Regions from separate parts of the Homo sapiens genome. Here all the other regions are reported to be linked to region 2. The links are microRNA targets in miRTarBase. Many come from high-throughput screens and were not tested one by one. Region 2 holds a microRNA gene; each other region holds the end of a gene's coding sequence.

Evidence for each region. Region 2 holds the annotated microRNA hsa-miR-6715a-3p (CCAAACCAGUCGUGCCUGUGG, at 4,280-4,300, shown strand). A microRNA usually pairs through its seed, bases 2 to 8, with sites in the 3' UTR of a target mRNA and lowers its output. Matches are read on the target gene's strand: a 7mer-m8 pairs with bases 2 to 8, a 7mer-A1 pairs with bases 2 to 7 and ends in A, and an 8mer does both.
Region 1: miRTarBase lists MAL2 as a target of hsa-miR-6715a-3p. Seed matches in the 3' UTR shown: 7mer-m8 at 4,510-4,516 and 7mer-A1 at 4,462-4,468.
Region 3: miRTarBase lists NCAPD3 as a target of hsa-miR-6715a-3p. Seed matches in the 3' UTR shown: 7mer-m8 at 5,599-5,605, 7mer-m8 at 5,537-5,543 and 7mer-m8 at 4,352-4,358.
Region 4: the mRNA of CIMIP2B is a reported target of hsa-miR-6715a-3p. Seed matches in the 3' UTR shown: 7mer-m8 at 6,617-6,623.

What each region holds. Positions count from the first base shown.
Region 1 is chr8:119,241,720-119,249,601 of GRCh38, reverse strand. MAL2 (mal, T cell differentiation protein 2) reads right to left here. Exons shown (of 4, transcript NM_052886.3): 4 at 3,929-6,185. The coding sequence ends at 6,114. MAL2-AS1 (MAL2 antisense RNA 1) reads left to right here and starts at 2,745. Exons shown (of 6, transcript NR_149114.1): 1 at 2,745-2,872; 2 at 4,760-4,792; 3 at 5,272-5,307.
Region 2 is chr10:112,295,381-112,303,262 of GRCh38, forward strand. MIR6715A (microRNA 6715a) reads left to right here and starts at 4,232; the gene lies at 4,232-4,310. It overlaps TECTB (tectorin beta), which reads left to right. Exons shown (of 11, transcript NM_058222.3): 8 at 2,689-2,851; 9 at 4,112-4,184; 10 at 6,721-6,753. MIR6715B (microRNA 6715b) reads right to left here and starts at 4,308; the gene lies at 4,232-4,308. RefSeq lists an enhancer at 6,991-7,285.
Region 3 is chr11:134,146,462-134,153,782 of GRCh38, forward strand. NCAPD3 (non-SMC condensin II complex subunit D3) reads right to left here. Exons shown (of 35, transcript NM_015261.3): 33 at 6,828-6,902; 34 at 6,679-6,739; 35 at 3,652-6,591. The coding sequence ends at 6,483. JAM3 (junctional adhesion molecule 3) reads left to right here. Exons shown (of 9, transcript NM_032801.5): 7 at 2,086-2,215; 8 at 2,303-2,357; 9 at 2,685-5,540. The coding sequence ends at 2,720. It overlaps SNORD153 (small nucleolar RNA, C/D box 153), which reads right to left and starts at 4,902; the gene lies at 4,827-4,902.
Region 4 is chr9:35,555,276-35,563,157 of GRCh38, forward strand. It overlaps CIMIP2B (ciliary microtubule inner protein 2B), which reads right to left. Exons shown (of 6, transcript NM_001164310.3): 3 at 7,600-7,805; 4 at 7,374-7,425; 5 at 7,105-7,299; 6 at 6,556-6,820. The coding sequence ends at 6,732. RUSC2 (RUN and SH3 domain containing 2) reads left to right here. Exons shown (of 12, transcript NM_014806.5): 3 at 1-426; 4 at 677-862; 5 at 1,033-1,173; 6 at 2,639-2,715; 7 at 2,922-3,096; 8 at 3,187-3,292; 9 at 3,951-3,997; 10 at 4,754-5,576; 11 at 5,685-5,822; 12 at 5,906-6,620. The coding sequence ends at 6,107. Among named protein-coding and RNA genes, the nearest start is that of CIMIP2B, 4.7 kb to the right of the region's middle. RefSeq lists a silencer at 5,768-5,960.

The DNA of each region.
Region 1 (7,882 bases), not on the chromosome of region 2:
CACATTTGAAGCACCAGCACAGAGGCAATACCCATGACAGTGGGGTGCCATTTTCCTGAATGCCACATGCACATTGAATTTGAATTTGAAACTTCTATAGAGTATTGTGTTCCCAAAAGGAAAAACTAATCGGCCTGGGAAAAGAGAGATGAAAACAGGAGTGGCCTCATTTACCATCACTCCCAGTGACTCACTATGGATTTTGTGCTTCCCATCCTTACAGTTTGGGGTTCTGCTTGATTACCATTCTGATCTCCAAAGGAGGCTTATTCTTATCTGGGGCAGAGCAAGGGTTTTATTGAACTACAAGCTGTGGCTGCTGTTGAGGCATTTTGGAGTCTTTAAGCACCAAGCGGGCAGGAAGGAGTTGCCCTTTTTGCAGGGGTAATTTATCCTGATAAAAAGGTATGTAGGGCTGTTATTACACAATAGAAATAGGAATATGTATGAAACTCAGGTGATCCACATGGGCACCTTTGTGGTAATTCCTTGTCCAATTATGACTGTGGATGGACAAGTGCAGTGACCCCCACCTGAAAAAGTTACTGTTGTCTTGGTTTCAGACCCTTCAAGAATGAGTGTGTGGGTCACACCACCAGATAATTCACCCAGACCTGCAAAGGTAGGTGATAGCTGCTAAGACAATTCAGAATGGATGGTTGGAGAGAGAGATGAATACCAGTTGTGGCCCCAAGACCAACTGCAGTGATGTGGCTGAGTTTGACCCACTAACCTTTCTTTTTTAAAAGTCTTACCCTCAGGATGAGAGGCCCACTGAGGAGTAGCTCCCAGGATATGCATGGAGAAGTGGATTGATTTGGTACAAGGGGTGAAAAGTGGCAGTTATGAAGTGTGCTATTTAGATCTCCAAAAGATAACCATCCACAGGGAGTGCAGTTATCTGACAGCACCAGTTGCAGATACCCTCAGGATCTTCCTTCAGTGTCCACACCAATGAGCTGAGGCCATTCATTCTGGGCAGTCCACAGGCAATGACTGCACATGGTGTTGGTATCAGGGCTCATCGTTTCCAGCTAGTGTGAGACTCCTCCTCTATGGGCAGTCTTGGTGTTGGAGCTCACTGCTAAATTGGTTGAGACTTTCTCAGAATGAGCACAGTCTGAGGCTCTTCCTACCTAATCTTACTTCTCCTTTCATGTGAGTCAAACCTATATCAGGGGCAGAAATATTTTTTTTCCTGCTTGTGCTCTCTCTCCTCTTTATATTTTATAGGCATTATCTCCAACAAACATCTCGTACTTTGAACTGCATCTTGGCTTCTTCTTTCCAAAGGACCTCCTCTCCCAGACTTGCATCATCATCACTGGTAGATGATAACTTAGGCTTGAATAAATTAAGTGGCTCACCTCAGGTCCCACAAATGTTAAATGGACTATTTTTTCACAATACTTATTCTCATACTGAATAATATCCATGAAATCACGCAATTGATGTGCAAGTTATAATTCCCTAATTCACATTGAAAGTATAACTAACTATTAAATTTAAAATAAAAAACAAGACTAAGTCTGGTCAACTTAGTTATCCCACACTGGAAAAGTACATAATATCACATTTTTTTTTTGTTGAGAATTTGTTTGTTCTATGAAAGCATATTTGGCCAAGAGTTAATTTTTGAGATTTAGTCAATGTAGTCATTCTGAAGAAATGGAGTACCTATCGTCTTACTGAGAAACCAATTTCAATGCTTATGGCTGCCAGCCTGTGTTAGACACATCCATCAAAACAGCAAAGGAGATAGTCCAGTTTTATGCCCTCCAAGCCAATATTCTATTCCTATGGCCTCTAAAATGGAGTATGTGTACTTAAAGAAATATGCAAGATAATACACAGAGTGACAAAGGAAATATTTTAACTATTTTGTGAACATAAAATTAAACTTTTACTAATAGGTTGGTGCAAAAGGAATTGCAGCTTTTGCCATTACATTCAATAGCAAAAACCACAATTACTTTTGAACCAACCAAATACTTAAAATAGGCGGACACCAGTTCATATATTCCACATGCATAAACTATGTATGCTCAAAAATGGAGACAACTGTTAAAACCTGCTGTCTAAAATTAACAAAACACAAGCCTTCCATTCTAGTGGAGAAGAGGACAAATATAATAAATTAATGCTATATGCATATACACTATACATAAAGTATGTCCTAAGAGCTATGGAGAAAAATGTAGAAAAGGAGAACAGGGAGTGCTAGTGTGAGATTCAAGATTAAATGTGGTTCTGAGGTAGGACCTCACTGTAAAGGTGATGACTAAGCAAAGACCCAAAGAGGGTGAGAAAGCCAGCTCTGTAGGTAACTTGAGAAAAAAGTGCTCCAGAGAGAGGAACTAGGATTGTCCTTTTGCTAGGGGCACAGCCTAATAAAAGTATAACTAACGTCCTTTTTTGTTACAAAGCTGGACATTCAAAACATTAAACATATTATAACCAATTTTTGCCAGAGGTTGCAAGTGTTTTTTGTGAAAAATCAGACCTTGGCGATGACCTTGAGCAGTAGGATATAAATAACTCCCACAAGCTTAATGTTCCAATAATGGAACACTAGGCATAGATAGGTTAAAGATCATTGCTATCCCCATACTCTGGACCCCTGCCTGATGAATACATTAAGCTGACACCTGAGACACTGATTCACCAATTAACAAACTTCAGGCATGTTGTTAATGATAGAACCTTCATGACAGTGATCCAGAGTTCCAGATTCTAGAGTATTCAGAGGTGGAAATTCATAGTCCATGCTCAAGATCGAATGGCATCTCTCAGACTGGAAGACCTTTCTGAAGTCAGTTCCAGACATCCCTGGAAGGCTGGATAATTTGGGAAAAGGCTGACTCAATGTAAGGTAATACAGCAGACCAAAGCCCCCATAGTTCATGCCAGAAGTGACAAAGCGGAAAAACACTCAGGTAGACAAGCACTCAGGGACCGTTCTAGAGGCAAGTGGCCTAACCTTTTCTCCATCATGCAGGTTTGGCTTAAATTCTTACAGCTAAAATCATGAGTCCTTGGTTATGACAAAAATGTTCTAAGATATGACACTTACAATAACTATGATGTTAAACATTCTGCTAAAACTTCTCTGGGTGAAGAAAAGATCACATTTTTGGATATAGATATAAAATCTGGGTGAACTGAGGCAAACAGAAATTAAGAGTCTGCACTTCGGAGTCAGACTGTTGGGGTTTAAGTCCCAGCTTTCTCACCTGCTAGGCAGGCAGCACTGGGTGTTTCTTAAGGTTTTTTAGTCTCCAAGCCTTTAAAATGGGATAAGAGTATACACCTCATAGGGTTGTTATGATGAGAAATAAATGAATATGTGAAAAAAATGCCTGAAACATATAAAACATGGTATAAATGAATGCTTTTTAAATAAAACAATTCTTTTTAGCATGGATAGTGGTTTTTTTTGTGTGTGTGTGAGACAGGGTCTCACTCTGTCACCCAGGTTGGAGCCTCAACATCCTGGGCTAAAGCAATCCTCCCACCTCAGTTTCCCAAGTAGCTGGGACTAGAGGCACGTGCCACATGCACCCAGCTAATTTTTAAATTATTTTGTAGAGATGAGGTCTTGCTATATTGCCCAGGTTGGTCCTGAATTCCTAGTGTCAAGTGATCCTTCTGCCTCGGCTTCCCAAAGTATTGGGAATACTGGCATAAGTCATCACACTCGGCAAAACAGAATTCTCATTTAAACTTCCTTTGCAACGTTACTTCCAAAGACTTGCCTCTTTCACCTTCATCAAAGAAAAAAGACTTACTGACAATTCCTGAGAGACTTTTACACAGAAATGTTTAAAACAGAACTTTTTATACATTATAATTCTATAAGCTCTGCCAAATTTATATCAAACCTTTAACTGAATTTCAAAGTGAATGGTGTAAAAGATGACCACAAAGATTATCAAATGAATACTTTATTAGAGACATAACACGTATAAAATAAATTTCTTTTCATCATGGAGTTACCAGATTTTAAAACCAACCAACACTTTCTCATTTTTACAGCTAAGACATGTTAAATTCTTAAATGCCATAATTTTTGTTCAACTGCTTTGTCATTCAACTCACAAGTCTAGAATGTGATTAAGCTACAAATCTAAGTATTCACAGATGTGTCTTAGGCTTGGTTTGTAACAATCTAGAAGCAATCTGTTTACAAAAGTGCCACCAAAGCATTTTAAAGAAACCAATTTAATGCCACCAAACATAAGCCTGCTATACCTGGGAAACAAAAAATCTCACACCTAAATTCTAGCAGAGTAAACGATTCCAACTAGAATGTACTGTATATCCATATGGCACATTTATGACTTTGTAATATGTAATTCATAATACAGGTTTAGGTGTGTGGTATGGAGCTAGGAAAACCAAAGTAGTAGGATATTATAGAAAAGATCTGATGTTAAGTATAAAGTCATATGCCTGATTTCCTCAAACCTTTTGTTTTTCCTCATGTCTTCTGTCTTTATATTTTTATCACAAACCAAGATCTAACAGGGTTCTTTCTAGAGGATTATTAGATAAGTAACACTTGATCATTAAGCACGGATCATGCCACTCATTCATGGTTGTTCTATGTTCCATGAACTCTAATAGCCCAACTTATACATGGCACTCCAAGGGGATGCTTCAGCCAGAAAGTAAAGGGCTGAAAAAGTAGAACAATACAAAAGCCCTCGTGTGGTGGGAACTGTGGCCTCACTCTTACTTGTCCTTCCATTCAAAACAGTTTGGCACCTTTCCATGACGAGGATCTCTACAGGTAGGTTAAAATACTTTTCTGTGCTATTCAGCCAGAAATAGTTTTTGTGCTGGATATGATTTTAAAACAGATTTTGTCTGTCACCAGTGCAAAAACATTACAGATGTCTGGGCTAATACAAAAACACATAAGAATCTACAACTTTATATTTAATACTCTATTCAAATTTAACTCAAAGTAATGCAAAATAATTAGAAGTAAAAACTTAATTCTTCTGAGAGCTCTATTTGGAAAAGCTTCACATATCCACACACAAATATGGGTATATTCATGCACAGGGCAAACAACTGTATTCTGAAGCATAAATAAACTCAAAGTAAGACATCAGTAGCTAGATACCAGTTCCAGTATTGGTTAATGGTCTCTGGGGATCCCATTTTAAGCACTCTCAGATGAGGATCTTGCTCAGTTGTTAGACTATCATTAGTTTGATTAAGCAACTGAAGTTTACTTCATAAATTACTTTTTCCTATATCCAGGACTCTGCCTGAGAAATTTTATACATTCCTCCAAAGGTAAGTATTCTCCAAAGGTAAGTATTTGACTATTAACACAAAGGCAATGTGATTATTGCATAATGACACTAAATATTATGTGGCTTTTCTGTTAGGTTTATAAGTTTTCAATGATCAGTTCAAGAAAATGCAGATCATATATAACTAAGGTTTTACACCAGTGGTTGACAAACTATGGCCCACAGGCTAAACCCAGCCTCCCCTTGTTTTTATAAATAAGTTTTATTAGAACATAACCACACTCATTCATTTCTGTATTGTGTATAGCTGCTTTCACGCTATACTAGCAGAACTGAATAGTTGTGACAGAGACTGTATGGACCGTGAAGCATAAATATTTACCATCTGGCCCATTCTAAAAAAAGTGTGCCAATTCCTGGTTTACACTAAAATATAGAGTTTAGTGGGAAGCCTATTTGAAATGTGTTTTTTTTAGGGGCTGTAATTACCAATTAAAATTAAGGTTCAGGTGACTCAGCAACCAAACAAAAGGGATACTAATTTTTTATGAACAATATATTTGTATTTTATGGACATAAAAGGAAACTTTCAGAAAGAAAAGGAGGAAAATAAAGGGGGAAAGGGAAAAAGGGGAGAGATGTAAAATAAAAGGCCATTTCTTTAATATCATAATAAAATTAACATTCCATCCATGAAATAAACCAGAACTTGAGCTTAGAGTCTCTCTCTACTAAACACATTACTTTTGGAATGTTTTTGCATCTGGACAAAATGGTATCCAAATTGATCAGACATATAAAGTAGACAAGTGAAACTAACATACGACTGCCAGTTTCTAAGGAGTGTTACGGTCGCCATCTTCGTAAAGCCAGACCCAAACTGCAACCATAACAAGCTGTCGTCATAAAGGCAAAAATCTAAGAAAAAAGAAACAAAAATTCACATCAGATTTACAACACCGACTTATAAACAGTGTCCTAAAGAACAACCATATGAAGTTTGACCAACAATCTACCTAAAGATACTTCGACACTTACAAAAATATTTTACATTGTTTTTTTTTTTTTGATGATTTGTACAACTGTTTTATTCCCTCATACAATTACCCTCCCCCCTTCCTTTAAACATTTTAGCTCCTAATAATTTTCTCATTTGTGGACAACTTTACACTGAACATTTGTTCAATCTGTTCACATTCTGGGCTCACTTAAGTATTTGTGAATCCCTAAGCACTGTATTTAAAAATTCAGCATGAAGTTCTGTTCATGTAGTGGCTTCACAGCCAAGGAAGCCAGCAACTATCAGAACCTGAGGATGCATCAAATAATTTCTATGATGATGGAAGGTAACTTTAAAACTCAACTAAGACAAGTGGAAATGAATTATCAGGTTGGCTTGCTCTTGTATGGGAGACAGTCCTGTGTACAAATCTGCACTCTACTTGGAATTAATGAGAATTTCTTCAGCACCAACTGTGTGTATATCACTATACTTGGTACATATAAACAAACAGTAGATAATGTCCTCACCCTTTTGGGGCTTATGATCCATAGAAGACTAAAAGACAAAGCAAAAGCAGTTCAACATGATAAATGTTTGATAAATGTTGTGGGTTTAGCACAGGGATTCTTAACCAGGAAACCAGTTCTGGGAAGGAATACCAGATTCACCTATAGACCATTTTCACAGTTTACTATTCTGCTTTTCTTTCCACCCTTCTTCTGCTGATTTTTTCTCTGATACATTTCTAATCTAGACATTGTTTTCTGAATGACAGCAATAGCTTTTGATACCTATTTTTTGATACCTATTATTTGATACCTATTATTAGGGAAAAGGAATTTTCCTCTCTAATTTCCCAAATGGATGGCTAATACATTTTAGTTACAATAAAACTCAAACTAGAGATTTACTTAGACTGGAGTGAGCATATGGATGAAATGGGATGTAATGTTGAACTTGAAGCATGTAGAGGTTTACTGAGACAGCTTCACTTAGAAAGGGAAGGACAACAGGGACAAAGTCACAAAAGAGAAGCAGCCAGAACAGAACTACATTATGGAGAACACGGAAAACTAGGCCCTTAGGACAAAGGTGACAAATTAAAGACCTCAGACAACCATCACGTATTTCAGCAGCTACTATTCTTGTGAAAGTAGGTTCTAGGGTGACTGTCAATAGATTTGGGGCTACTTCAATGATCCAAGATACAAGAATCTAGCCTGCACCGTTAAAATGAAGGGACTGGAAGTAAGAAACACATAAAGGCAAATACAATGGGAATTGATGACTAATAGCATAGGAAAGTCCCTGAACTTTGCTTTGTAAAGCTGTTAAAACCAAGGGTTTTCTAATGTGGATCACAAGGATTCTATCATCCTCAGGGATGATATGGGTGGGTAGAGGCAGCTTTATGAAAAGAGAATGAGCATCATTCAAGGCCCTCTTCCTCCACTTCAACTAGAGCACTTACACTTTTATCTTCTAGATTTATTGGGGTTTTAGGTAAGAATTGATTAAATAAAACCTTTATTTCTTTTATAAGCAAGTGTTAAAGTCATGAATCTACACTATAAACCTTTCAAAGCTAAAACCATGACTCCTTTTTGTTGTA
Region 2 (7,882 bases):
TAAAGTAGACAGTATAATAATCATTATTTTATAGAGGAGAAAACTGAGGCACAGGTCCAGAAATGTGCCCAAGATATGGAGCTAGTAAGGAGAAGGCCTGGGATTCAGACTCAGTCAGTGTTACCTCCTGAGTGGCCTGGACAGGACAGGCTGGCCGAGGCACACCTGTGCAGCCCAGCAAAGCCTCCTGTAGAGATGGCAGCTTAATCTGGGTGTTTACCTCACATCTGCCATTGAATGATTCAATTCATTCAGCCTCTGTTAGCAATGGTGCAATCAAATGACTCCAGGAATTCTGAAATAACGTATTGACCTGCAGGGACCAGAAATTGCTATCAGGCACTGGGAACCTCTCTCAGGCAATGGTCACACTAGGCAAAGGCTTCTGCTACCCCTGGAATCATCTCTCTGCAGGGAGTTCTAGTGCCGTTGTTCCCATCTGGCAGATGTGCAACATGGCTGAAAAAGGGATGCCTGTGGCTTTGGGTGGTCTGCACAATTGTCCTCAAGCTCTAGTGTACACACAAACTGTGTAGGGTGCCTATTACGTATGCAGGTGTACTGTAAACCTACCAGATCAGAAGGACTCTGGGGAAACCCACGGAATCTGCATTTCAACACAGCCAGATGTAAGACATCCCGACCCATTTCTACATTCTTCCTAGTTGACATGGCACCTCAAAGTTGGAGATACATGCACAAAGTTCAGTGCCAAAGGGGAGAATGGAAAAGTCCACTCCCACAATCTCCAGATGATTTTTGCTCACAACACTGGGCCCCTTTGGAAAAAAAAAACCCAGTTTGCAAAAGTTCCTGGAGAGATGGCAGGAGATATATCATAAGGAATTTCCCTGTACACATGGATGCCCCAAAAGCAGCATACTTATCTCAAAGAGCAATCTGACATGGGAAAGGAGGCTCATGCAGAGAGGGCATAAAAGCCTCCTGTGGGCTTCCACCATCTAGAGGCAGCTGCCACTGAAGTGTGGGTGCTGCAGCTGGTGCCAAGAAGCAGCAGTGCCAAGGCATCTAGATCTGCCTATTTTTTGCCTCCTCCCCACCCCCTGACAAAGCTCTGCTTACATTATTTTCCACTGGCTGACCATGCCTGGGGCACTCTGGCTGCAAAGAGCTATTTTAAGAACTCCCATCTTGAGTTCATACGAGGATCTCGTGTTTATTGACAAAATGATCCTACAGAAGTCTTGTTTCACAACTTGGAAAATGCCACAGTTTCATCACTGTTCAGAGCCCACCACACACAGACCCGGCTCTGACCCCTGGTCCAGATACAAAGGTACAGCATTCCCTCACTTCACTCCCTCACTCTCACACTTGACTTCCTTAGTGCCTGCCTTTAGCTTGGCCCCCCGTTGTCTGTTTCTGAGGGAAAAGGGGTGGGGTAGAGAACATCATGAAGGTTCCCTGGGGTAACTGGACCGCTCTCTGGCGTGTGTGCCGAGTTTACCATACAAGAAGAAAGATGCTTCAGAGTTGCATTAATCTGGGGCCTGCTATGGTGCTATTCAGTGGTCTGACGCTTTCGAAACATAGACCTTTTCCTGCAGAGCGACAGACCCTGCTACCCCGTGCTACCTGCAGATAACAAACCCCCACAATAGTGTGGGCTTCTCTGTACAGTCCCAAGAATGGTTGCGTCTGTTTCCAACACCTAGTTAAAGGAACGGCACTTAGGTCATCAGTCTTTGTTAAATGAAAAAGTATGTTTGCTGAAACTAGGGTTTCTCAATGTTGGCACCTTGACATTTGGGGTGGGACCATTCTCCACTGTGGGGGCTGTGCTGTGCACTGTAGGACGTTCAGCAGCAGCCCTGGTCTCCGCCCACTCACTAGATACCAGCAGCACTTCCCCCAGCCTGGACAATCACAGTGCCAAATGTCCCCTGGGGCACAAAGTGGACCAAGCGAGAACCACTAGCTTAAATAAATGCCCATCTGTGTCATTTTTTAAACTGAATTATTACCTTTGAGACGTTGGAATATCATACAAATATTGTATTCTCATTATAGAGAATTTGGAAGAATACATAAAAATACAAAGAAGAAAACCAAAAATGCCCATAATTTTATCCCTTTGTATCAGCCTGTGTTAACATTTAGACGGTATCCTTCAGTCATTATTTCTGTGCTTATATTAAAAATGTGACCACATTTTTACAAAAGTAACTATGTAGATATATATAATTTAAATAATATACCATAAATACAAATTTTCAATGCAAAACCTCACAGTTCACACACAGAAATGTGTTGGGTGTGACTTGAGCTTAGGCAGCTGTGGCAGCAGGGGCAATGCTGCACCTGGTGCCATTGTCCTTACTTTGTATGTCCCTCAAGGGCTGGACATATTCCAGTCCTCGGAGGGCCTTATCTCCTAGGGATTTTCTTTCTTTGGGACACAGGTGTAACTTACTAAAAGTGTGACTCTTATAAGTCACTCCCCTCCCATCGTACCTTGTCTATAGAATGAGGACAGTAATACCCATCTCCTAGCTCATCAACTTGACCTCACAGTTGTGAAGATCAAGTGAGGTGCTGCTAATCAAAATGCCTGGGAAGGTTAGAGGTCATATAACCACCTCGGGAGCCTTGTGTGTAAATCGCTCAGCAGCTCTTGCTGGAGTTCAAGGAGATGACAGTTCACTCTTCTTTCCCCATCTGCCTCAGCTGCCCCACGGATGAAACCGTCCTCGTGCATGAGAATGGGAGAGATCACAGGGCAACCTTCCAATTCAATGCTTTCCGGTTCCAGAACATCCCCAAACTCTCCAAGGTGTGGTTACACTGTGAGACGTTCATCTGCGACAGTGAGAAACTCTCCTGCCCAGTGGTGAGCTGCCTCTCTCCAGAAGGACAATGTTACCTAAAGGGTGCCAGTATTGGAGGAGCTGGAGTTTGAGTGGGGAGATCATAACCAGGCCAGGGCAGCTGTGTGCTGAGGACATCTGGAGGAAATGGCACTGAGTATAAGGGCAGATGCTCGTGAGGGCAGATGCTCAGGGCCCTATCTGCCCTGCCTCCAACAACCCACATGGTCTGGCATGTGTCGCCTAACCTGCTGGGACCTGCTTTCTCATCCTTAAGCAAAGTGTGTTAAGTAATGATGGCCCTTCCCTCATCAGAGGGCAGTGTAGGTAAATGAAAGTGATAACAGACTTGGAAATACTTGGAAGAAGTGAAAAGGGCAAGGGAAATTCAAGGTCTAGGTGGCAGGGACAGGCCGTGGAAATAACTCAAAAGGTGGGTGTTTTTAGTCTTGACTGAACAGCCCGAGGGTTCACCTCTGTGACTTCAGAGAGATGCTGCAGAAATTCCCGACACTGGATCATGGCTGATTTGACCACGTGAGAGGAAGGCCTGGGCAGGCTGTGCTTTAACAAGCCAGCAGTCATGCCGGTGCTCACTCAAGCCTGAGAACCACCACTTAGACACTTAGACATGCCAAATCTCAAACTGTTCTCCTTTCTGGTCTCTTTCAACTGGAGACCTCGGTGTTTCCAAAGAGGCTGCTATCCACATAGCCTATAGTAACCAACAAAAATAAGGTCATAATCTCTATTGCTGTTGTTTCATTTGGCCAGAAAATGGTTCTTTATGAGCACAAACAGCAAAAGGGAAAGAAACCAGAGAGTGCAGAGCCAGGGAGAGGAGGGGAGAGACACTGTACAGTTGATCAAAGGATAAGTATCAATGCCATATTTTTAAAAAGAAAGAAAAGAAAATGAACCAGAATACAATTGCAAGTGTCCACTTCTCTAATTATTGTGGTGAGAGTGGTAAGTAGAAGCCTTATCAAAGGAAATGGGATCAATCCCTTCCACACTCAATGACCTCTTCCAGAAGGATTCCCTCTGGCTTGAAGAGTTAACAAAGTAAAGCTTTCTCTTTGTATTCAAGTTGGAGAAGGGATGAACAGTGTGTCTTCTGGGTTATTTTTTAAAAAGGTAACTCATCTCTGTTGACTGGGGAATTGTGACTCCACCCCATTTGTGACCTTTTTAAAATATCTTTTCTTTCTCTTTTCTCCCCTTTGCTCACGCATCATCCCACCTTCCCCGCTTCTCTCCTGTCTGCCTCTCTGGGTCTTCAGACCTGCGATAAACGGAAGCGCCTCCTGCGAGACCAGACCGGGGGAGTCCTGGTCGTGGAGCTCTCCCTGCGGAGTAAGCGTCTCTGTTTTCCTCTGTTTTCCAAACGGTTGAGTTCACGCTGGGCTGCGTCCACAGGCACAGCCGGTTTGAGCATTTTTACTGAATTGCCAAACCAGTCGTGCCTGTGGGCACAACCTTCACCTGCTCCTGGAGTCTTCCAGCCAGGGGTGGGGAACAGCTCAAGCCAAACGAAGGAGTTGAGGTTTGTTATCTACTCTGAAAGTTCTAACTGCACCCTAAATTCAAATACCCCCAAAGAATCAGGAAGTGCTGAGCTTCCAAACAGAGCATGCAGTGAACAATAATAATAGAAAATGAGATGTCATGGGGCCGGGCTCGGTGGCTCACGCCTGTAATCCCAGCACTTTGGGAGGCCGAGGTGGGCAGATCACTTGAGGTCAGGAGTTTGAGACCAGCCTGACCAACATGGTGAAACCCCACCTCTACTAAAAATACAAAATTACCTGGGCTTGGTGGGGCACGCCTGTAATCCCAACTACTCGGGAGGCTAAGGCAGGAGAATCACTTGAATCTGGGAGGCAGAGGTTGCAGTGAGCTGAGATCGCGCCATTGTACTCCAGCCTGGGCAACAAGAGCGAAACTCCGTCTCAAAAAAAAAAAAAAGAAAGAAAGAAAAAGAAGAAAGAAAGAGAGACAGACAGACAGACAGAAAGAAATAAAGAAAGAAAGAAAGAAAGAAAGAAAGAAAGAAAGAAAGAAAGAAAGAAAAGAAAGAAAGAAAGAAAGAAAGAAAGAAAGAAAGAAAGAGAAAGAAAAAAGAAAAGAAAAGAAAGAAGGAAGGAAGGAAGGAAGGAAAAATGAGATGTCATGAGAATGTCATGTGCAAGTCAAAAAACCTTTACTGAGTATCCAGCACTGCCTGGCCTGGCAGGGCACTAGGATTTCAGAAATAAATGTGACCCAAGCAGGCCCTGTCCTCAAGGGATTTACTGTCTAGCAAGGAGAGAGATGTTAGACACTAAGGGAAAGAGAAATTACTGTTAAGGAGGGTGACAGTGGGCTGGTGCCATGGTTGCACAGTTGATCATCACTAATGTGAAAATCCAAAATCCGAATGCTCCCAAATCTGAAACTTTTTGAGCACCCACATGATGCTCAAAGGTCATGCTCACAGGAAATGCTCATTGTAGCATTTTAGATTTCAGATTCCAGGTTTTCCAGTTAGGGATGCTCAACTAGTATAATGCAAAGATTCCAAAATCCAAAAAAAAATCTGAAATCTGAAACACTTCTGGTCCCAAGCATTTTGGATAAGGGATATTCATCCTGAATGGAGCAAAGGGATTCAACCTAGTACAGGGCTTGCAGAAGAGCTCTGCTGACAATCTCCAAGTGAGACCTGAAGGATAGTGTGACATGAAGGGTGGGCAAAACCTGTGGGAAGGCGGGAAGCTGTAGCGGCTCTATCTTAGAGGACAGTCACCAAGCTATGGCCAAGGGCCAAGGCCCAGGTGCCACCTGGTTTTGTGGCCTGGGAATTAAGAACAGTTTTCACGTTTTTATGTGGTTCAAAAAAAGAATCAAAACAACAATATTTCGTGACATGTAGAAATTACGTGAAATTCAGGGCCAGGCATGGTGGCTCATGCCTCTAATTCCAGCACTTTGGGAGGCCAAGGCGGGCAGATCACCTGAGGTCAGGAGTTCGAGACCAGCCTGGCCCTGTCCCTACTAGAATACAAAAATTATCCGGGAGTGGTGGTGCACACTTGTAGTCCCAGTACTTGGGAGGCTGAGGCCAGAGAATCACTTGAACCTGGGAGGCAGAGGTTGCAGTGAGCAGAGATCACGCTACTACACTCTAGCCTGGGCAACAAGAGTGAAACTCTGTCTCAAAAAAAAAAAAAAAATTATATGAAATTCAAATTTCAGTGCCTTTAAAGAAAGTTTTATTAGAACACAGCAACACTCGTTCATGTAGATATTGTCTACAGCAGTGCACTGCAACTACAGGTGGATTTGTGGTAGCAGAGATGGGATGGCCTGCAAAGCTGACAAAATGTACTATTTACTTTTTTCTTTTCAGAAAGCTTACCAACCCCTGCTTTGGAGAGAAAGCGTTGTGAGATGAAACTTTGTAAACCCCCAGTATAAACTGTCTGAAAGGCAATGGAGCACCTGATGGTTTAATCAGGGGAGGATTGTGGTCAGGTTTTGTGTTTTATTTATTTATTTATATTTATTTTTTTGAGACCGTGTCGCCCAGGTTGGAGTGCAATGACGTGATCTCAGCTTCAAGCAATTCTCCTGACTCAGCCTCCTGAGTAGCTGGGATTACAGGCACGTGCCACCACATCTGGTTCATTTTTGTATTTTTGGTAGAGACAGGGTTTCATCATGTTGCCCAAGCTGGTTTCGAGCTCCCAACCTCAAGTGACCCGCCCACCTGGGCCTCCCAAAGTGCTGGGATTACAAGTGTGAGCCGCAGCCCCCAGCCAGGTTTTGTGTTGTAGAAACATCACTCTGAGACTTCTCCTTTCCATGATCTTTTCTTAAACTTTCTGCATTCTCTCTTTACTCACTACAGGCAGGGGATTTTCCAGTCTCTATAGCTTCTCAGGTAAGGAAAAGAGACACTTCTGGGATTTCGTGGGGCTATGCTGTTAAAAGGCAGAGAGTGTTTTAAGAGAAGCTTAACTTTGGCCCCGGCAAAACTTTTAAGGATTGAAAATTATACTTTAAAGCACACCTGAGTGGCGCAGAGGGGGCGAGATCAAGAGGTCTCCCTCTGACCAGCCCCTGAACTCTGAAGAGAGGGAGGAACCGAAGGTAAATCGGATGAAGCAGAACTGGACCTCACTTCCCCAAGTCTTAGTAAAGCCATCCCCAGATGGCTTCCCTTGGATTCCAACATTTACAGAACAAGATTTTCAGTGATCTGTTCATTCAACAAATATTTGAATTCTTGTTATGGCTCTGTCTTTTATTAACTGAGTGACCTTGGGCAATGACCTCACCCCTCCTCCATACCCTAGTTTCCTCTGTGAAATTGGGCTAATAATTGCCCCTATCTACATGGCTGTGGTATAGATATTTAATTACAGCTAAGGGCACTGAACAATGCCCAGCAAACAGCAAACACCCAGTCAGGGTCAGCCATGATTATGATGACTGTACTGGGAACTGGTCTTGTGGCTACTGCCGTGAACAAGACAGACAAGGCCCCTTCCCTTGCCAATATGTGTAGAGTATTTGGGGTTCAATGGGGGACGTGATTTAGAGAGCAGCCAGGGAAGCCCCTTAGAGGAAGAAACATTTCAGCTAAGACCCAAGATCTCACCTGAATGATAAGAAGGAAGCAACTACATGAGGAGATGGGGTAAGACAGTTCACTTATTAATAATCTCACAGACAGATTTTGCTCTCATCATTACAGGAGAATCATGTAAATCAACTTTTAAAATTCCAATCCTAGATTCTCATCGTTTTTAAGTTCTACACTGAAAGCCCTAGAGTACCATGCACCATCACTGATTTCTATTTGTCAGAGGTCCACAACCTAGGTTTATCTGTCAGGTTCTTTGTACTGATAAATGTGAGCTACAGAATCCCCAAGGGATGAACAAAATCGACTTTGTCTAAAATGTGTGGAATTTTATGAAGACCCCTGAGTTAACTCTTCTGTTGAGTTGGCTTTACCCTTGTAGAACTGTCTCTGAGTGCCATCTCCCTCCCCTTCTGGTCCACAG
Region 3 (7,321 bases), not on the chromosome of region 2:
AATGTTATCTCAGGGCTCTGGTTCCCCTAATGGAGGGGCGTTGAGAGGAGGGTGGGGGCAGAGAGGATGTGTCCAAATCACTTGGGGAGCTTTTTTTTTTCTTAAAAAACAAAAAACAAAAAACACCACAGGGTCTTGCTTTGTTGCCCAGGCTGGAGTGCAGTGAGTGCAGTCACAGGTCACTGCATCCTCAAACCCAGCCTTCAAGCCATTCTCCCACCTCAGTCTCCTGAGTAGCTGGAACAACAGGCACACACCACCATGCTCAGCTAATTTTATTTTTTGTAGATACGGGGTCTCACTGTGTTGCCCAGGCTGGTCTCAAACTCCTGGCCTCAAGCAATCCTCCTGCCTCGGCCTCCCCCAGGTGCTGGGATTAACAGGCATGAGCCACTGTGCCCAGCCAGGAGCATTTTTTGAATCCTTCCCTCCTCCCTATTTGGAGCTCTCCTCAGAGCAGCATTTTCCAAAACTGCCTGGTGATACCCATTTGGGACCACTGTTTCACATACAGATTCGAGCCCACCTCAGACATATGCTAGAAATGTCTGTGTGTGAGACAAGCGTTCCGAAGGATTCTTCTCATGTGTCACGTTTGAGAAACTCTGCTCTAGGGTTGTTTTCTCCTGCAGTTTTGCCCCAGACCTACTTTAGCCTATTGACTTTTTAGTGATGAAACTTGGGAATTGACATTTTAACATCAAAATTGCATGCCAGGCGTGGTGGCTCACACTATAATCCTAGCACTCTGGGAGGCTGAGGCGGGTGGATCACCTGAGGTCAGGAGTTCAAGACCAGCCTGGCCAACATGCCAAAACTCTGTGTCTACTAAAAATACAAAAATTAGCCTGGTGTGGTGGCAGGCGCCTGTAGTCCCAGTAACTTGGGAGGCTGAGGCAGAAGGATCCCTTGAACCCGGGAGGCGGAGCTTGCAGTGAGCCGAGATTGCACCACAGAACTCCAGCCTGGGTGACGGTGACGGAGCAAGACTCTGTCTCAAAAAAAAAAAAAAAAAAACGATTGCAAGTTTACTTTTTGTTTTTGAGATGGAGTCTCGCTCTGTCACCCAGGCTGGAGTGCAGTGGCACAATCTCGGCTCACTGCAAGCTCCGCCTCCCGGGTTCACACCTTTCTCCTGCCTCAGCCTCCTGAGTAGCTGGGACTACAGGCACCTGCCAACACGCTCAGCCAATTTTTTGTGTTTCTAGTAGAGACGGGGTTTCACCACCTTAGCCAGGATGGTCTCGAATCTCTGACCTCGTGATCTGCCCACCTCGGCCTCCCAAAGTGCTGGGATTACAGGCGTGAGCCACCGCGCCCGGCCTGCAAGTTGATTTTTAAGTGTACATTCATCTTTGAGAACCAATACACTAGGATAAAGGAGATTTTTTTAAAACTTCCAAGTTACTTGGCTCTTGTTGATAAATTCCCTGCATAGTTTTCCATGTGTCGCTTGCTTGAAGGAACGGCTGCCAGAGCCCCATATGAAAGTGACCCAGTGCCTTTGCCCAGTGTATAGACATGAGAAAAGGGTTCCAGGGGGTTTCCTCTCAGAGGGCTTATAGATCGGAGGTCAGGCAGCCGGCAGAGACAAAGCTCTAGTTCTTACCTAGGATTCTTTACTTGTTTGTTTTTTGAGACAGATTCTTTAAGGCTTGAAGCTACCTTTCTTCCCCGCAGCAATCTGCAACAAAGGGAGGCCCTGGAAATTAGGGATTCTTTTCTTCTTGGGATCCTGGCTCCTAATCTTGTCCTCATAACCATTTCCTCCATAAGTAATCTCAGGCATTCAGCCAGAGGATTTTTAAGCCTACAGTGCCAAGCCCACTTTAATACACTTTTCAGTGCGACTGCATTTCAACTGTAGAAGTCTCAGTACTTTTCACGTGTGAAGTTAGGAGTTATGGTGTCCTATATGTTCTAGGCTAGAAGGATTGTAAGTGTTCTCTCTTCTAGCTGGGGTAGGCCTGAGGGGGCAGGGGGCAAGTGGGTTTGGGGTGAAGGAAGGAGGCACAGCAGGGCCAGGGCCTTTTTAAATAACAGATAGTGTGTATCATGGCTTCCACCAAACCTCCTTTTCTTCAGATGACCTGAACATTGGCGGAATTATTGGGGGGGTTCTGGTTGTCCTTGCTGTACTGGCCCTGATCACGTTGGGCATCTGCTGTGCATACAGACGTGGCTACTTCATCAACAATAAACAGGATGGAGAAAGGTGAGCCTGCCTTATGTGAAAAAAGGGAAGTTCAAGCTGGCAATAATATAACAACCCTGTTGCTAAACTGCTCTCTTCTCCTCATAGTTACAAGAACCCAGGGAAACCAGATGGAGTTAACTACATCCGCACTGACGAGGAGGTAATCATTTAGTAAACCTGGAAACCTAGGTGTACCCAGCAGGGAAAACAACATTCCCCCTTGGAAACCACACGGGTCTCCTGGGAAGATTTCTGAGTGATTGTGCAGCTCCTGAGCTCCTCAGCCCCTTCACAGTAACACACACACACACACACACACACACACACACACACACACTAATGGGATTTGTGCTTTGCAAGCGCTAGTGATGGTACTTTTTAAGAATGATTATTCCATCTGTATTTAGCCCATGTTAGACTTACTCCGTGTTTTTCCCTGCTTGCCACCAGGCCCCTTGATGGCTCTAACTGTGTGTTGGCTTTGCAGGGCGACTTCAGACACAAGTCATCGTTTGTGATCTGAGACCCGCGGTGTGGCTGAGAGCGCACAGAGCGCACGTGCACATACCTCTGCTAGAAACTCCTGTCAAGGCAGCGAGAGCTGATGCACTCGGACAGAGCTAGACACTCATTCAGAAGCTTTTCGTTTTGGCCAAAGTTGACCACTACTCTTCTTACTCTAACAAGCCACATGAATAGAAGAATTTTCCTCAAGATGGACCCGGTAAATATAACCACAAGGAAGCGAAACTGGGTGCGTTCACTGAGTTGGGTTCCTAATCTGTTTCTGGCCTGATTCCCGCATGAGTATTAGGGTGATCTTAAAGAGTTTGCTCACGTAAACGCCCGTGCTGGGCCCTGTGAAGCCAGCATGTTCACCACTGGTCGTTCAGCAGCCACGACAGCACCATGTGAGATGGCGAGGTGGCTGGACAGCACCAGCAGCGCATCCCGGCGGGAACCCAGAAAAGGCTTCTTACACAGCAGCCTTACTTCATCGGCCCACAGACACCACCGCAGTTTCTTCTTAAAGGCTCTGCTGATCGGTGTTGCAGTGTCCATTGTGGAGAAGCTTTTTGGATCAGCATTTTGTAAAAACAACCAAAATCAGGAAGGTAAATTGGTTGCTGGAAGAGGGATCTTGCCTGAGGAACCCTGCTTGTCCAACAGGGTGTCAGGATTTAAGGAAAACCTTCGTCTTAGGCTAAGTCTGAAATGGTACTGAAATATGCTTTTCTATGGGTCTTGTTTATTTTATAAAATTTTACATCTAAATTTTTGCTAAGGATGTATTTTGATTATTGAAAAGAAAATTTCTATTTAAACTGTAAATATATTGTCATACAATGTTAAATAACCTATTTTTTTAAAAAAGTTCAACTTAAGGTAGAAGTTCCAAGCTACTAGTGTTAAATTGGAAAATATCAATAATTAAGAGTATTTTACCCAAGGAATCCTCTCATGGAAGTTTACTGTGATGTTCCTTTTCTCACACAAGTTTTAGCCTTTTTCACAAGGGAACTCATACTGTCTACACATCAGACCATAGTTGCTTAGGAAACCTTTAAAAATTCCAGTTAAGCAATGTTGAAATCAGTTTGCATCTCTTCAAAAGAAACCTCTCAGGTTAGCTTTGAACTGCCTCTTCCTGAGATGACTAGGACAGTCTGTACCCAGAGGCCACCCAGAAGCCCTCAGATGTACATACACAGATGCCAGTCAGCTCCTGGGGTTGCGCCAGGCGCCCCCGCTCTAGCTCACTGTTGCCTCGCTGTCTGCCAGGAGGCCCTGCCATCCTTGGGCCCTGGCAGTGGCTGTGTCCCAGTGAGCTTTACTCACGTGGCCCTTGCTTCATCCAGCACAGCTCTCAGGTGGGCACTGCAGGGACACTGGTGTCTTCCATGTAGCGTCCCAGCTTTGGGCTCCTGTAACAGACCTCTTTTTGGTTATGGATGGCTCACAAAATAGGGCCCCCAATGCTATTTTTTTTTTTTAAGTTTGTTTAATTATTTGTTAAGATTGTCTAAGGCCAAAGGCAATTGCGAAATCAAGTCTGTCAAGTACAATAACATTTTTAAAAGAAAATGGATCCCACTGTTCCTCTTTGCCACAGAGAAAGCACCCAGACGCCACAGGCTCTGTCGCATTTCAAAACAAACCATGATGGAGTGGCGGCCAGTCCAGCCTTTTAAAGAACGTCAGGTGGAGCAGCCAGGTGAAAGGCCTGGCGGGGAGGAAAGTGAAACGCCTGAATCAAAAGCAGTTTTCTAATTTTGACTTTAAATTTTTCATCCGCCGGAGACACTGCTCCCATTTGTGGGGGGACATTAGCAACATCACTCAGAAGCCTGTGTTCTTCAAGAGCAGGTGTTCTCAGCCTCACATGCCCTGCCGTGCTGGACTCAGGACTGAAGTGCTGTAAAGCAAGGAGCTGCTGAGAAGGAGCACTCCACTGTGTGCCTGGAGAATGGCTCTCACTACTCACCTTGTCTTTCAGCTTCCAGTGTCTTGGGTTTTTTATACTTTGACAGCTTTTTTTTAATTGCATACATGAGACTGTGTTGACTTTTTTTAGTTATGTGAAACACTTTGCCGCAGGCCGCCTGGCAGAGGCAGGAAATGCTCCAGCAGTGGCTCAGTGCTCCCTGGTGTCTGCTGCATGGCATCCTGGATGCTTAGCATGCAAGTTCCCTCCATCATTGCCACCTTGGTAGAGAGGGATGGCTCCCCACCCTCAGCGTTGGGGATTCACGCTCCAGCCTCCTTCTTGGTTGTCATAGTGATAGGGTAGCCTTATTGCCCCCTCTTCTTATACCCTAAAACCTTCTACACTAGTGCCATGGGAACCAGGTCTGAAAAAGTAGAGAGAAGTGAAAGTAGAGTCTGGGAAGTAGCTGCCTATAACTGAGACTAGACGGAAAAGGAATACTCGTGTATTTTAAGATATGAATGTGACTCAAGACTCGAGGCCGATACGAGGCTGTGATTCTGCCTTTGGATGGATGTTGCTGTACACAGATGCTACAGACTTGTACTAACACACCGTAATTTGGCATTTGTTTAACCTCATTTATAAAAGCTTCAAAAAAACCCAAACATTGCTTCATTCTTTGTTATTTGCTCTTACGTTGGGTTTGTCTCTTCTTCCTAGCATTTCAGTGGTTAGGCATGCACACTAAAAATGCTATCAATCACCCATCCACCAGGGAAGTCAGTGCTGGGCAGGAGGTCAGCCTGTGTGCTCAAGAGCAGTGCTGCGCCTCTCCGCCACCGAGCCCACCTGTGTTGCGGTTCCCACTTGGGATGGCAGTGGGCAGATCTCAGTGGCATCCCATCCCCCAAACCAACCAACGCACATCATCACTTTGTACTTTTGCTTTTGTAATACTGGGATTAAAAAACAAACCAACTGCATTTCTTTCTGGATATTGTTGAACAAAAATAGCATTCAGTTTACCCACTAGTGCTAACAGAAGAGACTCAAGCTGTTCCCCCATCATGGGAGCAGCCCTTAACAGAGGGCTGCACAAATCGGCAGTGCTGCTCTGGGGAAGGCTGCAAAGCCATTTTTTCCCAAGAAGGGATGCTGTTCATGTCTGTTAGGGAAAGCACACCGCCTCTGCCTGGGCACAGATGAACTGCCCTTCAAGACAATCATCTTTTTTCTAATAGGGAAGATTTGGTTTCATTCCTCTAACAAACAAACATGCTTTATGTAAAATTAAAATGATTACCAATAAGAGCTCTGTTCTAAAAACAGAAAAATCCTATTGACTACTGGAAGGCTGTATTTATGCTAAACCTTTATTACTTTTAGAAAGCTGTACACTTTTTTAAAAAATTTGCACTTATAAATAATAGAAAAAATATTAGAATCAAAATTTCGTCATTACAGATGGGAAAATATGTACTATAAGGAATTCAAGTTAACAGAGGCTTGATTTATATAAAAGAAAGCTGCAGTTTTAAAGTTGTGTTCCTTAAAGACCAGATTATAGCTTATCTGAATGGGCTTGACACTTTCAAATGGAATAAAGTTACAATATTAAACAGATTAGGGTAAGAAAATCTAAATCTGGCACATCTCTATTATTTGACAGTGTTTAACCAAATACATCATACAGAATAGAAGGTGAGTGCCAGGCCCCTGAGGAGGAGCTCTCGTGTTCCACAGCAAAGCGCTGCCCAAGGACTGCGGGAAGTGATCCAGCTGCCTTCACACGGAGGACACGAGACTGCTTCCTCAAGGGCTCCTGCCTGCCTGGACACTGGTGGGAGGCGCTGTTTAGTTGGCTGTTTTCAGAGGGGTCTTTCGGAGGGACCTCCTGCTGCAGGCTGGAGTGTCTTTATTCCTGGCGGGAGACCGCACATTCCACTGCTGAGGCTGTGGGGGCCTAGGGAAAGGACATGTGCAGTCATTCTGGAACTCAGAAAAACCCTGACAGAAACATCCACCTCAAAAGGAACACTGCTAAACTTACGGTTTATCAGGCAGTGATAAACATAAGATGTCATTTCCTTGACTCCGGCCTTCAATTTTCTCTAAAAGGGAGTCAAACAAACACATTCAGCTTTCCCAGAACCTCAAAGGCAGTGCATCTATCAGCCCAGAAGGACACCAAGAACTTGCCTTTGGCTGACGACGGAGTCCGTGGTGTCCCGATGTAACTGACCCCTGCTCCAAACGTGACATCACTGATGCTCTCTGCATAAAGAGGAGACACCACTGAGTGAAAGCCGCGTGGTCTATCGGAGGTCTCTGTTCTAGTTGTCCGTGGGACGTAGGCAGGGTGTCCACATCAGTGTCCCAGCGGCGGCCCTCAGACCTCCACTGGACCCTGTCCCAGGGCCTGGCAGTGTTGAGGGCCCCTCCTGGGGATGCTCCTTTCCGTCTCTCTGACCCCCTTCTCTGACCCGCAGCCCTCAGGCACTCGGCTGGCCCCTGGGCCTCACTGTTCACGCCTCTGGCTTCCCTCCCGCCGTCTTCCATCATTGCCCCTGTCCCGGTGACCGCCCTGTCCCACTTACTACACCTCCTACTGTGGCTCACCCAGATTCCCTGAGGACACTTCAACTCCTTGCCTCTGCACCTCCACGCGTGCCTGCTGGTTTCCAGCCAGTGAC
Region 4 (7,882 bases), not on the chromosome of region 2:
CAGCTCCCTCAGGGGAACCGCAGGCATCCACTCCCCGAGCCACTGGCAGAGGTGCCAGGAAAGCTGGGTCTGAGCCAGAGACCTCTCGGCCATCGCCCCTGGGCAGCTACTCCCCCATCCGGAGTGTTGGCCCCTTTGGGCCCAGCACTGACTCTTCTGCCTCCACTTCGTGCTCCCCTCCCCCAGAGCAGCCCACAGCCACAGAAAGCCTGCCCCCATGGAGCCACTCCTGTCCTTCTGCTGTCCGGCCTGCCACCTCCCAGCAGCCGCAGAAGGAGGATCAGAAGATACTGACCTTGACTGAGTACCGGCTCCATGGAACAGGAAGCTTGCCGCCTCTGGGCTCCTGGCGATCTGGCCTCAGCCGAGCAGAGAGCCTGGCCCGGGGAGGTGGTGAGGGCAGCATGGCCACCAGGCCCAGTAATGGTACGAGCTCCAGCATCTCCCTACCCAACCCGCCACCTCACGCAAGCACTTCCACCACCTCCCCTTTGAGTGGTTGCTTACACTCTCACCTGGGGCCAGAGGTTAGGATGTCTGCATCCCTCCCTCAGCATCTGTAGATAATATCCACAGATAATCTAGTGTTTCATATGGGCCCACTGGGTGGATGTGAAACTCTGTCTCGCTGTCTCCTGCCAACTCTTGTCTTTCTGCTAATCTGTTCTGCTTCCAGCCAACCACCTATCCCCTCAAGCCCTCAAGTGGCGGGAATACAGGAGGAAGAACCCACTAGGGCCACCTGGTTTGTCAGGGAGCCTAGACCGAAGATCACAAGAAGCTCGGCTGGCCCGAAGAAACCCTATCTTTGAGTTCCCTGGCTCCCTCAGTGCTGCCAGCCATCTGAACTGCCGGCTGAATGGTGTGTGAGCAGGGTCCCCAGTACACCCGGGGCAGGCTCTGCCATGGCTGGAAAGGGCTAGAGAAGGGGTCAGTCCCAAAGGAACGTGTCTCAGACGGTACGAGGCACTGAACTGGCCTGGAACTCCTGCACTGAGAGTTGCTCAGGATTGATTTTTCTCTTCTTTCCAGGCCAAGCAGTGAAGCCGTTACCACTGACCTGCCCTGACTTCCAGGACCCCTTTTCCTTGACGGAGAAGCCTCCAGCTGAGTTTTGTCTGTCCCCAGATGGCAGCTCAGAGGCCATTTCCATTGACCTGCTTCAGAAAAAAGGTGCATACAACCCCCAGCTCAGGCCAGGGACTCTGCTGTCACTACCTCCTCACACTTGCCCTACTACCTAGCCAGTCTGAAACCTCTAAGTGCTGGCTGGGCCCAGTGGCTCACGCCTGTAATCCCAGCACTTTGGGAGGCCAAGGCAGGTGGATCATGAGGTCAGGAGTTCGAGGCCAGCCTGGCCAACATGGTGAAACCCCATCTCTACTAAAAACACAAAAAAAAATTAGCTGGGTGTTGTGGTGGGCGCGTGTAATCCCAGCTACTCGGGAGGCTGAGGCAGGAGAATTACTTGAACCCAGGAGGTGGAGGTTGCAGTGAGCCAAGATCACACCATTGCACTCCAGCCTGGGCAACAAAACTGAAAACTCCTTTTCAAAAGAAAACCACAAACAAATCTCCAGGTGCTGGGAAGGTGTTGGAGCACACAGGCTCTGGGGCCAGAGGAGGAAGCTGTGTGCTGTGTATCATGAGTGCATGTGAGTGAGCAAGGGTCATTCATCAGAGGCTTTCAGAGTCACGCTCCGGTCCCTTCCTGCAGTGAGCAAAGTCTCATGAGGAGGCTTCCATGTCATCAAAAAATGCCTCAGTGCTCTTGGAGGGGGCGGGTGAAGGTACTAGAGGGCCCAGCAGCTTGGGTAAGAGTGTTGGTGACATCTAGTAAGATGAAGATTGACAAGACCCACACTATTTAGCAAATAAGTGACCACTGAACTAAGAACATTTTTAGGGAGATGGAGAGAACTGAGCATAATTGTGGGCTGAAGATGAGCCTGTGAAGAGAGAGCTGAAGTTCCTTGCAAAGGCAGAAGGGGAGAATCAGAGCTCAGGGAGAAAGAACCCGGGCAAGAAGGGAAACGGCCACCTTCCTCCAGGACGCGAAGGGGATGCAAGTGGGCAGGGGAGTGAGGGGTGTACATATGAGATTGTTATGGATTTTGGAGGTAGAGGGAAGTTAAAGGAGTTTATAACTAGGGAACTCTGTTCTCTGAAGCAGAACCAAGGGCTTGAGAGGAGGGGTGTCGATTTCACATGGCAACTTGAGGGTATGGCAGAGAGTGCTGACAAGCCATGTGTCAAAGAACCGCCCTTGTCTGGCACTGGCACTGGGGTGAGGGACTTGGGTTTTCTTCAGGTCAGTGGCCCGGTTTCTCAGAGTGGAGAAAACCGATAGTTGGCCTGACCCAGGATTGGAATAAGGGCTGAGAGGTAAGGACATTGAGAGGCTTGACAGTGGCATCACTGAGGTAGCTCCAGGCTGGGAAGTAAAGACAGGAAGAGCTTAAGAACTGGGCAGAACCAGAAAAGGGCCAGGCCTGAATGTTTTGATAAGACCCATGTGCAGATGTGGAGACGGAGTAAGTGTGGGAGCCCTTTCCCTGAGGAAACCTGAGGTTTCAGCCCCAGCTGAGTTGGTTAAGGACTTGCTCAGGGACCTGTCACATCACATTCTTCCCTGCAGGGCTGGTAAAAGCTGTTAACATCGCTGTGGACCTCATTGTGGCTCATTTTGGCACAAGCCGGGATCCCGGGGTGAAGGTAGGCAAGGAAATGTGGAGAGCTGAGCTCTGCCTGCAAGCCCTCACCTGTCCCGCGCTACCACCTTCCCTTGCTGTCTTGCATTTAGAGCCCAGGGTTGGGTACTTAGGAATGGGGACGGCAAGAGGGGAACCATGAGGGCCTGCTACGAGAGGACCACAGTCAGGCCTGAGGGGGTTTCCTGCACTTCCCTACCACACCTACAGGCAAAGCTGGGAAACAGTTCTGTGAGCCCCAATGTGGGCCACCTGGTTCTGAAGTACTTGTGCCCTGCCGTCCGCGCCGTGCTGGAGGATGGGCTCAAGGCCTTTGTACTGGACGTCATCATCGGGCAGCGTAAGAACATGCCATGGAGTGTGGTTGAGGCTTCCACACAGCTAGGTAGGTGCTGGGTGCCAAGACGGGGACCCAGGGCTGAATTTAGGGCTCCAGAAATTGGTCATGTGACCTGCAACCCTGGCTTCCTCCCAGGCCCATCCACCAAGGTCCTGCATGGCCTCTACAACAAAGTCAGCCAATTCCCAGAGCTCACCAGTCATACCATGCGCTTCAACGCCTTCATCCTCGGCCTGCTCAAGTGAGTGCACAGAGCAGCAAGATCCCCTAAACAACTTGCCCTGCCCCCCACCCCCGGGCTCTGCCTGCACCAAGGAAACAACGCCCTGGACAGACAGAAAGGGTGGATCTGGAGGGTCCCCTCAGCCCGCTATGGCCTCTCAGTAGGTCACTGCCTCCCCACTGTGCCCATGACTCTGTCACTGGTCACCAACGTGGTCTGCTTTTACAAATCTGTAATCTGGCTTATTTGGAAATTAGTTGGGTTTCTTAATTTCTCTGGACCTTGTAAACCCTGATCCTCTCCATTCCAGCACTACTTCCAAATCCTGCTTGACCCTAAGTCCACCTTGGGACCCACATCCTAGTAACATGCTTTCTCAGGTATGGGCCCAGGCCATTCCCTTTGGCCCTGAGCTGCCTGTACTTTCACACAGTAGCTGCCTTGATTTCTTAGGTCTACTGCAGGCTGACTCCACTCCAGGAGGAAACAATTGGCTTGTAAATCACATGTCCATCTCCCTCCACACATCCCCACTGACTTTCTGGAATTAGGTGAAATGAATCGTGCCATGGAAGGGCGTGTTCACCTATTCTTCCTGTGCCTGACCCCCTGGATCTGTCTCCTTATCTGGCTGTATTCACACAAGACTCAACTCTCTTCACCTGTCTCCCTACAGCATCCGGTCCCTGGAGTTCTGGTTTAATCACCTCTATAACCACGAAGGTAATGCCTAGAACCCTGCAGGTCAAACTCAATGGGTCAGAATTCAGAGGCACAAAAGAGGAAGGAAGAGCTGTCTTTTCATTGCTGGAGGTGGGGAGGGGGACCACACAAGCGTTCATCCTCAGAGCCTCAGGCTTCCACCCAAGGCCTTCCCCAGCCTCTGCTTGAGTTAAAACCTTGGGCCAGGCATGGTGGCTCATGCCTGTAATCCCAGCACTTTGGGAGGCCGAGGCACGTGGGTCACCTGAGGTCAAGAGTTTGAGACTAGCCTGGGCAACATGGTGAAACCCCGTCTCTACTAAAAATTCAAAAATTAGCCGGCTGTGGTGGCGCATGCCTGTAGTCCCAGCTACTCGGGAGGCTGAGGCACGAGAATTGCTTGAACCTGAGAGGCAGAGGTTGCAGTGAGCCGAGATCATGCCACTGCACTCCAGCTTGGGCAACAGAGTGAGACTCAGTCTCAAAAAACAAAACAAAAAACCTTGGAGCCAGCAGGATACTCTAGCAATCTGGGAGTTAGGGTGGCCAGGAATCCCTGCATCTCACTCCTCTAAACTCAGGGCCACCGCCTGGGGTTGGAGAGTTTAGGCACTGCACAGCTGTGGGCAGCAGCGTTTATACTTAGTACATGCAAGTTGACTAGTGCACAGCCTGCACCGCTGTCTGCAGCAGCTCTGCCCAGACTGTCTTTCAAAGTCCCACTTGGGCCAGGCTCTGGTTCTCTGTGTGGATCAGTCCCTCTCTCTTTTCCCCTAGACATCATCCAGACCCACTACCAGCCCTGGGGCTTCCTGAGTGCAGCTCATACCGTGTGTCCCGGCCTCTTTGAAGAGCTGCTGCTGCTGCTACAGCCCCTGGCCCTGCTGCCCTTCAGCCTCGACTTGCTGTTCCAGCACCGGCTGCTGCAAAGTGGGCAGCAGCAGCGGCAGCACAAGGAACTGCTGCGGGTGTCCCAGGACCTGCTGCTGTCTGCCCACTCCACGCTGCAGCTGGCCCGGGCCCGGGGCCAGGAGGGCCCTGGAGACGTGGACAGGGCAGCCCAAGGGGAGCGGGTGAAGGGTGTGGGTGCCTCAGAAGGTGGAGAAGAGGAAGAGGAAGAAGAGGAGACAGAAGAGGTGGCAGAGGCAGCCGGGGGCTCAGGGCGTGCCAGGTGGGCCCGAGGTGGGCAGGCCGGCTGGTGGTACCAGCTCATGCAGAGCTCCCAGGTCTACATCGATGGCTCCATTGAGGGTTCCAGGTTCCCTCGTGGTAGCAGCAACAGCAGCAGCGAGAAAAAGAAAGGGGCAGGAGGTGGGGGACCTCCCCAGGCTCCACCACCCCGAGAGGGAGTAGTGGAGGGGGCTGAGGCCTGCCCTGCCTCTGAGGAGGCCCTGGGCCGGGAAAGGGGCTGGCCCTTCTGGATGGGGAGCCCCCCTGACTCTGTGCTGGCCGAGCTGAGGCGCAGTCGGGAGAGGGAAGGGCCCGCTGCCTCGCCAGCAGAAAATGAGGAAGGGGCCTCAGAGCCTTCACCTGGAGGCATCAAGTGGGGACACCTCTTTGGCTCCCGAAAAGCCCAGCGGGAGGCCCGGCCCACAAATAGGTGAGAGCCTGCCCATGGTAGGGATGGAGGGAGTAGGGAGCCTGCTGTAAGCCAGGGCACGGGCAGAGCCCATCCTGGGCAGAGCCTGAGTCCAGCTGCTGTCCCTAGGCTCCCCTCGGACTGGCTGAGCCTGGACAAGTCCATGTTCCAACTAGTGGCGCAGACAGTGGGTTCCCGCCGGGAGCCAGAGCCCAAGGAGAGCCTGCAGGAGCCACACTCCCCAGCCCTGCCCTCCAGTCCTCCGTGGTAAGCCTGGGGAAACGGAAGGGCTGAGGGGGGCGGGGGGCTTTTGAGGGGGTTTCTCTGACCTCCATGTGCTGTTTCCCCAGTGAGGTGCAGGCACTGTGCCACCACCTGGCCACCGGCCCTGGACAGCTGAGCTTCCACAAAGGAGACATCCTACGAGTGCTGGGGCGAGCTGGAGGAGACTGGCTGCGCTGCAGCCGTGGCCCCGACTCTGGCCTGGTGCCCCTGGCCTACGTGACATTGACCCCAACTCCAAGTCCAACCCCTGGAAGCAGCCAAAACTGAGGCCCTGTGCATGCTGGTGGCCTCAGGGACCCTCATAACCCCCAGACTCAGAGCCCGAGAGCCCTTCCCAAGCCATTGGCTTGGCTGCAGAGTAGACTGAGAGCTGGGGCCACGTATCCCTGTGCTGGCACCTGCTCCCTGTGCTCAGTATTAATTACGCCCCCTTAACTGTCCCAGTGACCTTGTCCAGACCTCCACCCAGGAGAGGGATGGGACACAGCACTGGGCTGCCAGGATTCCCCTGGCCCGTCTGGGCCAACCCTTCCATGGGTGAAGACAAGCAAGTCCCCCTGGAGGCGGGTGGCCCAGAAAGCCATCTACAGGGTTCCCTAGGCCAGGTGGAGATGAGGATGGGTAACAGTATTGGGGCCAGATCCCTAAGCCCCCCAGCTGTAAATAGGCTGTGGCCAGTGCCTGGTCATCAGAAGAGGGAGGAGGAGCCCAGGCGTCTGTTTATGTATTTATTTATTTATTTATTATACCTATTAATAAAAAAGGTGCTCAGCCTCCAAACCATTTTCTCTTTGTGTTCCCCCACCCTCCCACCCTCCCACCCACCTCTCTCCCTTCCAAAAGGATGGCTGGGATAGGATGAAAAGGGAAGGGAACTTGATGTCCAGTGGCCTAAGCCAAGAGCTGCTTCTGGAAGGTGCTGAGGCCCAGAGCATCATGGGTGAGATGGCCAAATGTGTGGCCAAACTGGAACTTATACCCTGTGTGGCCAAGAGAGTCTGTCACATGTAGCAAGTGGCATGGCAAAGCCATTTAATTCTCAGCCAGTTGGCTAGACCTCCAAACAGCCCTCTAAAATCTGGCCCTAATTCCCCACTGTGGGTAGCTACCTCGGTTTCCTTTTCTGCCTGATAATAAAGCTGAACCACATGATCTGAGCCCTCCCATATCTATTAGTTTCAACCCCCACAAACCACCCAACCCACCCCATACCCATACAAACAAACATTCCAGTCCCCAAAGCCTCCCCGGGGGCTCTTCTCACCTGGCACGTAGCCCCCATAGTTAGGTAAAAGACCCAGGTTCTGAGGGTATGTTCTGGGAAGTGGGGGGAGATGTTTGGGGTCCTGGGCACTGCCTGGTGAGTGCTTCTGCCCAAATTCCTGCAGTGCCTGGTTGGTGAGCACAGGAAAGCTGGAGCCGAAGAGGAAGCGGGCGCAGGGCACATAGCCAGTGAAGCCTGAGGATGGGGACACTGAGCCAAGGCATCCTGGGGCCTCCCCACGCCTCTGATCCTGACCCCCCAGCTCTCACCTGACATGAAGAACTTCCGAGGGTCCCTGTCATCCATGGAGTAGGGAGAAGCCTGTGAGAGAAGCCCCTGTGCTGTCACACAATCTCCCAAGGAGGTGGAGCTGACAATCAAGTGCACATCCCCTGAACCCACAGCCACACTACTCATGCTGCCCCCACTGCCCGGACACACAGTAAGACCCCCACTCCCACACCTCTGCACTCCCCACCAGCTTCTTGGTCTCACTTGTTCCACCACCTCCAGTGTCGGCTCCTCCAGCTGCCCCTCCGGCTCTGGCACCTGGTCCTTCTCTGTGTCCTTTCTTCCCTTGGCCTCCTTTGGTAGCTCTTCACTCCCTTGCTTTTCATGCAAGTGAGTAAAGTCACTCAGAGCCTCGGCCCAGACCTGGCTGCAGTTCTTGGCAAAGATGAACTGTGCCCGGGGTACAAAACCTGGGCAGGCAGGGACAAGGAAGACTCGTTAGTGTTTGGAACACATGCTCCTGGGAGGGGCACCTGTGCATACCTGC